3 linked regions of the Homo sapiens genome follow. The protein of the gene in region 2 interacts with the protein of the main gene of each other region in a biochemical or structural test. Each region holds a gene or a part of one and is shown on either strand. Other genes may lie near its edges.

Region 1 (5,424 bases), on a different chromosome or scaffold from region 2:
AGCAGTGTGCGAACAAACTAATATAATGTCAGAGGGATGCTTTTGTATTCACCCCAAAGCCAATTCAGAACCACAACTGATGCAGCACACCTTGGGACTTGTTCAAATATGGCCCATATCCTTCAGCAAGGGCCTTCTCTACTGCTTATCCTCAACCAGGAAATTACCATTTCCTTAAACTATGATTTCCTCAGAGGACCCTGGTGAGTTGAAACCAAACAGCAGGTGCTAGGACACTGAAGGTGAGCTCCCTGCCTCCTAATCCTCTGAGCCCCTTTTTGGCCCTTTTCTAGATAGCCCAGACTCAAGCAGAGCTTTATGGCCTCACAGACAATATACGGAGATGATGCAATCTATAGTCACTGTGTAATATATAGCAGGCTGCTTCACATTCTGATATGTAACCTGGGCTAACTAACTTGCCATAGTTATATGTTAGGTTTGAATAATATATATTTTAACAATATTTTAAAAAATTAATAGTGAAATGAGGCTAAAGATGCTTAGAGAAAATGTTTTATTTTCATTAGTTGACAACTAGTTGTTCAGTTGAATGGTAAGTTTCACACTGCATCCTAAAATAAGACAGATACTCTGCTGGCAAGTAGAAAATAGACTAATTTCATTTTTTATCTGTTAAGCTCTCTTGATAAAAAAGGCAAACCAGGCCAGTTTTAAATTTAAGAAACAGAAACATTGTCAGTGCTTCTTGTATCAACACACTTCATATTCAGAACTACTCCCAAGAGATAACATATTATCTCCTTTTCAAAGATGGGGAAACTGAAACTGGGCATTATCTATAATGACCAAACCACATAGTAAGAGGCACAAGCCAGCATTAGAATTCAGATCTTACTTGAAAGTGTACAGCTTAAAATTTTTTAAAAAATTCCTTCCATTATAAATGTAGTACCTGCTTACTGGAGAATGTTTGGAAAAGCAGTAAGAAGGAAGAAGATGAACTCATGATCCTGACTCCCAGTGGTAGCCAGATCAATGTTTTGGTACATACTTTCCGATACTCTGCTATGTGTATTTTTTAAAGTGTGAATACATGGTATATCAAAATGGATGTATCAGTATTTTAAAAACTAAAATCTGATTTTAAAAGGAAAGCATATAGAAAATCTGAAAAATACTGATATAAAGAAAATTAAAGTCATCTAGAATTCCATTCATCCAAAATAAACATTGTTAATATTTCCATATATTCCCTTAGTCTTTTTCTATCAATTTTCTTTTTATATAGTTAAGCTTATAATGTACAAGATTTTTAAGGAGAGTTAACAAAGGTTTAAATAGATGACAAAAAGGGACTTGGTGACAGATAGTATTTGCCAATCAAATTATTCAACAGGTTTTGAAGGGCGTGTGCTAAACTTCTAAGGTGAATCCTGACGTGGATTACTGGATTACCTTTTTTGTTGTTTTATTTCACCCAAGTGCGTCTATGTCATTTACCTAAGTTTTTATGTGTGGAGTATTCTTTGTAGGAGAGGAAAGATAACAGCTGTAGTCTGATTAACAGTTTTTAGTGTCTCACAATGAAAAATAAATAATGTGACTTAAACATTTTGCATACTTAAATTTACATAGAGTTTTAGCAAGAAAATAAGGCATGACTGATAATGGCTCAGGAAAGTTCTAAATGGTGTAACAGACTAGATCTTATTAAAGTTCCAAAGAATTTATTATCAAAACTAAAACAAAACTTCAGTTGTACATAAAGTAATAAACTTTACAACAGCTGTTAAGAGAAAGTCGTGATGTAAGTTTATACATATTACCGAAGGCAAAGAGGACAAGCAAAGGAGAGCTCCAGTTGGAATGTTGATTACATTCATGCAGCTTCCTCTTGATTTAAACACTCATGACACATTGAATGAACTGAAAGAAAAATCAGCATTATATGACAGACCTCAAAGCACTTATACGGCACAGCCTATTTCTGGCAGCTTACATTTGGTTTTCTAATTTGAACACGGGTAAAACAACCCCTACAACTTTCTAAGATATGAGTAAATGATAGATGGAAAAGTTTCCTTTTTTTAGGGAAGCAGTCTAATATAAAATCCACAGGGTTTCTCACATCAAAACTTCTTAGAGAAAGCAGATATAACTTCAATGGATAAATAATTTAAATAATTATTTGAATAATTATTTAAATTCCAAATAATATCCAAGACTAGAAATGGCCGTGGTCAAAGACACTTACCACAAACACAAACAACTGGAGTTTATACTGTTGTATTACGTGGGGATTTCCAAACCACACAGTATTACCCCATTACTCTAATGGAACACCTTAAACAGTTTATTGCCTTAAAATCTGCTTTATTAAAACAAATTGTAGCATGCAAGTGTATGTATGCACAGAAACAGAACAGCTAACCCTTCAGATACCTGAGATTAGAAATACCAGTATTTGCTGTGAAATGTTGGCTTCCCCGCTAAACATAAAGCAATAGATTCTGCTCTATCAGTGTTCCCTACACTACTAAGGTATTGTGCACTGCTAACCCTTGCAGCTCTATTGCAAGGTCAAGGTGATTATCCCTATTTTAGAGAAAAGGAAAATAAGGATCAGGATGTTTAGAAATCTTTTAAGTAGCCCCATCTGAAGTCAAAGCCCATGGTCTTTCTTTCCATTCCCCAGGCAGCCTTCTGATCTTTAGAAACAGCAAGGGGACTGTCAACTAAGAAGTTAACGCATGTTAAAGAGAACACACCCTTAAGCAGGTAAAATAAGCATATTCACACACACATACTAAGCTTTTAAAAGTGTACTTATAACTGCAGCAGCTGCTAAACCAAAAATACATGCATCTTATATTTTGTAATGGAGAATGGAATATTCAGTGATTACAGTCATTTCAATTCTACAAGTTTTTTTGTTTGTTTGTTTTTTGTTTTTAAATCAATGGCTGAGCAAAAACTGAAGAAACAAGTAACCAATCTCTCTAGCTTTGTTATATACATCCAGCTAATGCCATCAAAGATGGCACTAGGTTATGTTCACACTGATTACATGGCCTTACCCTACCCTTGTTTAGTTTGGCTGTTTAGTAAATAACTTGTTTTAAATTGTGATTTAGCCGGGAGCAGTGGCTCACGCCTGTAATCCCAGCACTTTGGGAGGCCTAAGCGGACAGATCACAAGGACAGGAGATCGAGACCATCCTGGCTAACACAGTGAAACCCCGTCTCTACTAAAAATACAAAAAAACTTAACCAGGTATGGTGGCACATGCCTATAGTCCCTCAGGAGGCTGAGGCAGGAGAATCGCTAGAACCCGAGACGTGGAGGTTGCAGTGAGCTGACATTGCGCCACTGCACTCCAACCTGGGCAACAGAGCGAGACTCCATCTCAAAAAAAAAAAAAAAATTGTGATTTAAGTTGTTGCCTGCCTTATGCCCTCAATGAAGAACATAGGTATGCAAAACTATTGAGCTGTTATCTATTCTCAGTGACTGACATGATTTGTTTACAGAAGACAAAAGCAGATAGTATATCTGCATAGTGTTTTTCAAGGGCATTTCTAATAGAAATCTTACAATGGCTCAGTGAAAAAGGCATTACTACTATATCTTCTTTATTCATATAGTGTCACAGCAATTAAGAAACCTGCTTAAGTGACCCAGCTAATAAATACAACAAGCTGGGTCTTGAACCCAGGTCTCTGAATGCAAATCAAATCATGGTCTCACTATAGTTAAGACTAATAAATGAAATTAATAAATTCTGGATGATAACTCTTTCTAACTTTTGAATCCCTTATGTCTCTGGCATCCTTAACCTTAAGATATTCTTAACAGCTAATTTCAAAGGGATACCCATCTGGTGTACATCCTTTTCATCTACTGTATCTCTTAATTTCTAAGACTTACATCATCATATGGGAAATTCACAACACCTTGCTGAGCAGTATCCCGTCTTCGAAAGCTGTCTGTAAAACAACACAGTAAAATTTATGGTTTTTCTTTAAATGGTTTTTCTAAAATCATAAAAGTTAGTTATTTTGGCATTGAATTCACATTGCAGTAACATTTAAATTGTGCAACCAATTAACATAAACAAAAGACCAAAGCAAAGAAGCCAACTATATGAATAGTAAAAGATTTAATATGCAACAAAGTAACAGGCAGAAGTTGGCCAGCTGTGTTTTTTGTTTTTTTGTTTTTTTAGATCTGGAGAAAATACCTTACCCAAAGTCAGTAAAAGCTGTGCAACTTCCATGGCCATTACTTCATTGTGATAAAAGCACCGAATTTCTAGCTTCTTAATAACAAAGATACTGCTTAAGAAACAGATAAAGAGTCCCCAATATAACAAATGGGCTGTAATCAGTTTCTCTACCATTTCAGCTCTGCCCTATAGAAAAGGATTTTATTTTAATTTCACTCTTTCCAAATATTTCACATTCTGGGGAAAAATTCATTATTATCTGATCAAAAATGCACAAGTTAGCTGATTGTGTTTTAGAACATTTTAGTAAAATTTAATTGTTTATTTTAATGGCAGATTACTTACTAATCTAAAATAAATTCTGGAAAAAAAACCAAAAAATTATTTTGCCAGATATGCTTAATAGTAATCTGAAAAAAACTACTAAAGCAAGAAAAAATTTGGGAAGAATAAAAGTTGAGAAGCACTGAGAGATGAAATGTAATAAAAACTGTGTCTTGGCTTGTGGTGATGACACGACCTTATAGAACTCACCTGTAAGAGCCCTCAGTTTGACGCAGCAGGCGATGTAGTCGTCGAAGGTGATCTTTCCATTGGTGCTGTATCGTTTTGCAATTGAATTCACAGCCTGGGGACTCAACCTAAATCCTAAAAGAAAAGCCATCCAGTAAAAAGGTTAAAGGATTGCAGAAGCTCATTAAAAAATAAAATAATCAAGCACTATTTTATTTTTTAAGACTGCAGACTCATATTAATTATGAACACACACAATTTCTAAGAAAACAGAAACTGCCTTCAGGTAGCAATTATTTATTTATTTATTTATTTACGAGAGGGAGTCTCACTCTCGCCCAGGCTGGAGTGCAGTGGTGTGATCTCGGCTCACAGCAACCTCTGCCTCCTGTGTTCAAGTGATTCTCCTGTCTTAGCCTCCCGAGTAGCTGGGACTGCAGGTGCATGCCACCACGCCCAGCTAATGTTTCTGTATTTTAGTAGAGTCGGGGTTTTACTGTGTTGCCCAGGCTGGTCTCGAACTCCCGAGCTCAGGCAATCCACCCTCCTTGGCCTCCCAAAGTGCTGGGATTACAGGTGTGAGCCACTGCACCCAGCCTGGTTTTAAAAATAAAAATCAACTTACTTCTACCAATGAATGGAGAGTTCTAGTAAGCCATACCTACCCATTGTTGTCAGGGCCTTCTGCAATTCTTGTGGGTCTACTGTTCCACTCCTGTCA
Region 2 (3,900 bases):
CGCAAAGTCCCGGATGGCTCAGGTAACTAAGGGCCAAATGCTGGCTCAGTTACTTTTCAATTGTGTGCCTTCAGGCAAGTCTTTCACCTCTCTGAGCTTGTGTGTAAGATGGGGGATAATCATACTCACCTCGGAAGACTGATGGGAAGAGGCAAATGGACAGTAAACAGCAAAGTCTTTCTAAACCCAAAGACCTGTACAACTACAACTGCAGTGCTGCAGAGGGAGTTGTACTGAAAAAACATTACACAAAGAATTTGGTTAGGGTGAGGGCAGACTGAAGAATAGTAAAGTGGTTGGACTTTGGAATCAGAGGGCCTTGAGATTCTGTCCATTCTTCAAGGCCATGGGACGCAGGCAACTTGCTTAACTACATTCATCTAAAAGGGAAGAATACCTACATCTCAGTGAATTGTTGAGGATTAAGCATCTGCTATGTATGTATCTCCTTTCCTGCCCTGCACAAAGTAATTACCAGAATTACTATGGATAAGGCCCCAACAATTCACCTTCAATGTTTCATGCTTCTACTTTCCCTAACTTCAGCTTAGTTTTGGAAGGTGTGAACACTTCTTAAGGGCAAAGTTCCATTCTAGGGTCCAGGAACCAGGAACTAATGGTCAGAAGCTGGAAGCTCATGGCAGGCAGGACTCCATCCCTCCCAGACCTGTGAAATCTTATTGTCACTCACTCCGGCTTAGGACAATGAAGTGAAGCTAAAATCAGGGTCCATGAACCCATGTAGTCCATTTGAAAGGATTTGCATAAAAATGGTCAAATATGCAAATGTTTAGTGCTGCTTAGTAAGGTAAGCACCATGTTGTAGGTCACAGTGTGGCCAAGTCTATCTGTGCTAAACTCCATGGTAAGAGCCACCAGGCTTCCTGGAAAGGCTGCATTTCTCAGAAACACATGAACCAAATCATACCTTCTGTACTACATGGTAAGCTTTCACAATGCCAAAGAAAATGGAATGCAACAGAACTTTTAATCCCATAAAAGACTCAATATATTTGGCACCCTCATTTTATAGTACTCCTTTTTGGTACAGAATCATTTTGCCAAAATACTCCTGTGATACAGATGCACATGATAAACTGTAAAATGGAATTTCACCCATTGAAGAGCCCCAAAAGAACAATATGGTAGTGCAGCATGAACTAACATGCAATTTCTAATTTTCAATATCCCCAAATTGCAAAATACTAATAGCTAATATATATACTATATGCCAAGTATTAAGTACTTTGTAATATTATCATAATCTGTTATAACCGCACTATGAGGAAAGTAGAATAGTACAATTATCTCACTTTGCAGATGAAGAAGCTGAGGTATAGAGATCAATTTACACAAAATCATATAGGCTGTTAGGCTCTCAAGTCTAGCTCTTAAGAGTTGATAAATGTGGAGCCTTTGGCTAGTAAGCTTTGCTACTTCTGGAAATGAATTTAGCCTTAGAAGTATGTTGAAAACTACTGTTTATGATTTGCTGTTAGACCAACAGGTAAACAGTGAACTATAAGTCAGTGTCACGAAAATATCAGTGTCATGAAAAGGCTAGAGTACATGGAGGGGGAAGATAACTTCTGGCTTGGGAGGTGGCCAGAGGGTCAAAGAAAGCTTTGCAGCAGTGGCATTTGAGCCAGGCCTTGGAAGATAAAAAACATTTGTGTCCTATACTTAGTAGGAGCTTGGTCAAGACAACACAAATATTAACAAAACTAATGACCTAGATGACATTAAGAAATATACCCTAAACAAGATGCACAACACATGTGTGACAATATTCTTGCTTCATTTCAATATCCACTTTACCCTAGTGTTCTGATTTCCAGTTTGGTTGTCATATCCATGTTCGTAACAATACCAAAATAGATTATGGAGACCAAAATCTAATACTGTTTCTTTTTTATGATAAACACCTTTTATTATATCTCAGTGTGCAAAAATACAAATTATCTTAAAAAAAATACAGAGCACTCTCGCTATGGATCCAGGCAAAGACAGGACAAACAAAAATTCCCTAACAGATGACAGTGAACACTTCGGTGGATTGAATCTGGGAACTACAATAGCCCTGCTCTCATTATACTATGAAGCCAAATTAATCAACTTTGATAATGATACACACTTAAACTATGAAAACCAATTAAGGCACAGTATCATTCAAAATTTATAGACAGAAGAGCAATAATCCCGAGAAAATATAATTAAAATACTCTGCTGAACATGGAATGACACCACATTTGTAACTTAACACTGGCAAAATTTGGAATGATTATAGCATAAAAGACATGGTTTTTCTGAAAAGTGGACAGGGAGGTGTGGTATATAGGAAAGTGGCTCACATTCAAGACTCAAGTTTATTTTTTAAAAGATCTCTTCTGCATTAGATTCTAGGTTTCTTTTTTGGTTTCAAAACTGGGTCTACAATCCATAAAAATGACATTAATGGAGATCTTAAAAACAATCTGATTATACCAGCAGTTTGGTAACATATCGGTAGAGCTGTTCTGTAAATGCTTCAGGGGAAAATTTTTCCTTCACTCTGGCTCTTCCAGCCAGGCCCATGGTGGCTTTTAAGGAAGGTTCACGGATGAACTTTTCTATTGCTTCTGAGAAGTGCACCGGGTCAGGCTCACACAGAAACCCTGTGACACTGTGGTCAATGGACTCCAAGGGTCCACCCGAATTAACAGCAATGACTGGGCACTGCATGTACATGGCTTCCAGAGGGACAATGCCAAAGTGCTCATTGCTTGGTGTGTAAAGCACACACGTGCAGCTGTGGAGGAGGGAGATTTTCTGTTTGTCTGAGAAAGACCTCAAGAAGGTCACATACTGGCCAAGGTCGGACTGTTGGACCATTTTCTTCAATTCCTGATAATGTTCCACATTCTCCAGGACTCTCTCGTCATAACCACCTGCCACGATCAGATGAACCCTCTCCCAATCTTGGGATGTCAATCTTCCACGCAGCTGTACTAGGGCTTCCAGTGCCAAAGTCAGATTTTTCTTCCTTTCGTATCTGTTGATGGAGAGCAGCAGGAATTTTTTCCCCTTGGGGACTAGGTCATCCAGCTTTTCAGGAACAACTGAGTCAAAGCTGGTGACATTTAGAGATGGATAGAGGACATCAGGGTCTATGTGAGACAGGGACTTGAATGTTTCCTTAAAAACAGCAGCTGTGAACTGGCTGTTGACTAAGATGCAGTCTGCCATGCCTGTGGTGTATTCCTCTATCCAGTCAATTGGGGCCCTGTATAGTCGTTTAAGAAAAGAATCTCTCTTGGTGAGAAGCAGATCTGGGAAGTGACAGTAAAATAGGATCTTCTTCCGCCGTCTAGCCAGCCTGAACACTGGGATACAGGCAGACACCTAGCCAAAGCAAAAATCAACAGCGGATAAAGTGGTCAACTCAACTTCAACCAAACCAAAAACACAGACACCCACCCCGTCTGGCTAGTCTGTGGGCTCCTCATGGGCAATGTCTGATTCTGTTTTATTCCCCAAGACTCTCACCCAGTACCATATGCCTGGTGTACAGAAGGCTACAGACGTTTGCTAGATGTGTGCTAAACATTTAAAGCTTCAAGTCCAGTGATTTCCTCTTGTATAGTGCTGTCTAATAGAAATCTAGTAATATTAAAAATGTTTTTAAGGGTGAAATTAATTTTAACATATTATTTACCGAAAACATTATCATTTCAAAATGTAACCAATACTAAACAGTATTAATGAGATACTTTATATATACATATATTTCACATTACATCTTCAAAATCGGTTTGTATTTTAACTTTAGCACATCTCAGTTTAGACTAGCCACATTTCAAGTGCTCAACAGCCACATGTGGCTAGTGGCTACCATACTGAACAGTGCCGCTCTAGGATCTT
Region 3 (3,149 bases), on a different chromosome or scaffold from region 2:
AGCCTGAAGGTCAGGCAGAGGTGACAGCATAGGGCCCTCTCAAGTCTTTTTAAGCACATGCCCAGCCCTAGGCATGTGTATGGTCTTTCAGATTCCCAGGAATATGTGGAATCTCTTTAAAGTCCTTATTCTCACCCAAAGAATCTTATTTCCTAGCCTTTCCTCCTGAAGCTTTTCAATTTGTCTCCTGTTTGCTCCAAATGTTATTCCTTCCCCTAGGCATGAGCCACTAATACACTGACCTTGAAACGTCTTTCCAGGCTGCCATCTTCACTTTAGGAGAGCTCCAAATTAGGCAAAATAAAAGAAAGGCATTTGAACCAGTCCTTCAGGGAGCAACAAATCAAATCAAAATCAACATACTTCTTGAAAATAAGGTCTAATCTGCTACCTCCAGTGACAGGAACCTATACAGGGAATGAGGGATATTGTTTTTGATGCTGCTGCCATGCTGGGGAGTGGGGGATGGGGCCAGGGTAAGCTAAAACACAACAAAGCTCTCTTACTAAATCCAGCTTTTATTCTTAGGTATTCACCTGATTGCTGTAAACTTTCAATTCGTTTCCAGAGTTCCCATAAATTTGAGTTTTTGCCACCTTATTTGCTGCTTTTGTGGAAGGACAGACTTGTGGAATTTCCTATTCCATTTCGTTGACCACATTAAAGTTTTAGAAGCTCTCCTCTAGTCTACCCTTCATTTTAAAAAGTCAAAAAGACAGGAAGTGACATATCCAGGGTCACACAACAAATCAGGGGCTGAGCTGAGATCAGAATAAGGATGTTTGACTCTCAGGTCAGAGCTCTTTCTGCTTCAGGACTTCATCAGCTCTTAGTGTTGAGAAGGAGTCAGGCTCAAGCTAAACACCAATATTAGGCCAAGGGGCAGCTTTCCAAGGAGTAGGGGCTGAGGGTAAGAGTCCTTGGTATACCTGGTGGGCTTGACTGACTCCTTTACTGACAGGGGACCCTACATGAGTCCAGGTTGTGGACTGAGTAATGATGTCCCTATCCCTTAGAAAAACACAGGCAGAGAGCTTTCAGATTTGATGGGGGTGAAAATGTAAACCTTTATCTTTCTGAGGACATGTATTTAGCTTGATGTTTCTAGGTCTCATTCCACTCCATCTCGGCCAGGGCAGGAAAGAGCCTACAGCAGAAATAAGGAGCCAGGTCCTAAGGTAGGGCTGTAACTCCCTGCCAAGGCCAACAGAAAATGGGCATGGCATGGCATTAAACCACCACTTTGACCGTGGGCACCTGCAAAGGTTCATCTTTCAGCTCCCTCTTCCCAAAGCTAGGAGTGCCTCATCTCATCTCTCATCACCTGACTGAATTCCAAGCAGACTGTGCCATCTGCTCACCTGCCCTCTGGAGGAACACCTCTACTTTTGCGGTGTTCTCTGTGTGAGCACAGTAGTATTTAGATAAGCGTTAGATTACAGCAGGTTACAGATGCAGTTTCCCAGTCCCCACACCTGCTCAAAATGCATGAGGGTCTGACCGCAGGAACTGCTCTTTAGCAAGCTCCCCTGATGATCCTGATACACACTCAGGCTTGAAAACCACCACTTTAGGACCATCTACCCAGCCACAGGGTGAGCACTCCAAGGTTTCTTTCTTAAATTTTGCACCTGAGACAAATGCCACCAGGACTAGGGTGAGGCGAGTGAGGCTATCTGTCTCAGGTGCAAAACTATTTAATAGTGTTTCCTCCAGCGCCCCCACAGCTGCTGAAAATTCTCTCAGGGCTGAATTCATCTGGTGCTTCTATTTTAGAAGTCAGACTAGATGTGTAGCATGGACTGGCCTTGACTAACATATCCAGGAGGCAGGAGAAGACCCATTGTGTTCTATCCCAGAAAGATGACCTGTAAGGTTGCACATCTTTCTCCCTATCTTTTTTGTCCTAAGCATAATAAACAGTGTTGATCCCAACCTCCCACTGACCTTGGAAGGCAGTAGGTGCCTTTGCCTCTGGGAAGATCATGAGGCATTCATGCAGTCCTCCAGCCCATACTTAACATGGGTTGGATCTCTTGGGAGTGACCATGAGGGCAGCGAGAGGAACAGGAAGGCAGGGAGAAACAGGACTAGGACAAACACAGGTGTCAGGTCCACAACTATGCCAAATGTCATGCCCAGGGTCAGGTTCCAGCCCATGCTGAGGTTCGAGGGGACTGGGTGGATGGGCGATAGCTGAAAGAAAACCTGGCGGGCCATAGGCAGGTAAAATGTAGTTTTATTCAGCAGCTATCTCATCAGCAGCTCTCACACTGTCCACCTTTACCTAGGCTGTCTTCTCCAGATCTGCAGCTCCTCTCAGCAGCCAGCTCTGTGGCTCCTGCCACCCCCATGCTTGCAGGTGCACTCCCTGGCTACAGGGTCAGCGGCTTAACTCTCCCTCTGGGCACAAGCTGAGCCATGTCCTGGCTCCCCTCTATCTATCTGCCAGATGGTCACTCTCCCTTACAGGGGTCAATAGCTTCACTCTCTCTGGGTGCTAGTGCACACCACGTGGAGCCATGCCCATCCGAGCCCAAGAACATCTGTACAGCGTCAGCAGGGCAGTTATACCTTTTCCAAACAATAGTGGCTTTGAGCCAAGTATGAACTTACACAAGCAGGTTATATAACAAGTGGAGTATACGCCTGTGACCTAAACTCGCTGAGTCACTCTGGCCTGGATATCCACCTTGGTCTATTCCTTGACCAAAGCACATCCATGTACTTTACAACAGGTGGTCTCCAAGTGTGTAGACCAGGGTCTCAAACCCAAAGGCCTGCAGGAGCCAAATGGGTGACATGGGCTTAGTGTAATACAAGACGGAGCCTATAGCAAATAAGGAGTACAGGCCTAAAGGGGCAGCTGCAACTCAGCTCCAGCCATGCAGGAATGCAAGCCCCATAGTGCCAGAATTTCTGAGTTTTCAAGAGAAGCCAGAATTCCAGATTTTTAAAAATATGAAATCTCTCAATGTTTAAATGTTGGCAACAAATTCAAATGTCTAAAAACACTTTGGAAACCAAAGTAAATGTGTCTGTAGGTGCAATATTGCCTGCTGGGCACCAGGCTGGGAACTTTGGAGTAAACAGGGCAAGGTAATGTCACAGAATATGGTCACATCAGAGCACATTGGTTCTAGGCCCCA

Evidence for each region. Proteins that work in one complex are often made in the same cells at the same time.
Region 1: the proteins of ALG2 (region 2) and SRI form a complex in vitro, tested with the Homo sapiens proteins (one study listed by BioGRID).
Region 3: the proteins of ALG2 (region 2) and ANXA11 form a complex in vitro, tested with the Homo sapiens proteins (one study listed by BioGRID).

The regions. Positions count from the first base shown.
Region 1 is NC_000007.14:88,204,615-88,210,038, forward strand, and holds the end of SRI (sorcin), read right to left. Parts: coding exon 5,369-5,424; intron 4,839-5,368; coding exon 4,725-4,838; intron 3,952-4,724; coding exon 3,893-3,951; coding exon of another isoform or gene 3,875-3,892; exon of another isoform or gene 3,581-3,874; intron 1,891-3,580; coding exon 1,864-1,890; 3' UTR 501-1,863; downstream 1-500. UniProt on the Homo sapiens protein: Calcium-binding protein that modulates excitation-contraction coupling in the heart. Contributes to calcium homeostasis in the heart sarcoplasmic reticulum. Modulates the activity of RYR2 calcium channels.
Region 2 is NC_000009.12:99,215,456-99,219,355, forward strand, and holds the end of ALG2 (alpha-1,3/1,6-mannosyltransferase ALG2), read right to left. Parts: intron 3,382-3,900; coding exon 2,479-3,381; 3' UTR 970-2,478; downstream 1-969. UniProt on the Homo sapiens protein: Mannosyltransferase that operates in the biosynthetic pathway of dolichol-linked oligosaccharides, the glycan precursors employed in protein asparagine (N)-glycosylation.
Region 3 is NC_000010.11:80,150,389-80,153,537, forward strand, and holds the end of ANXA11 (annexin A11), read right to left. Parts: 3' UTR 501-3,149; downstream 1-500. UniProt on the Homo sapiens protein: Binds specifically to calcyclin in a calcium-dependent manner. Required for midbody formation and completion of the terminal phase of cytokinesis.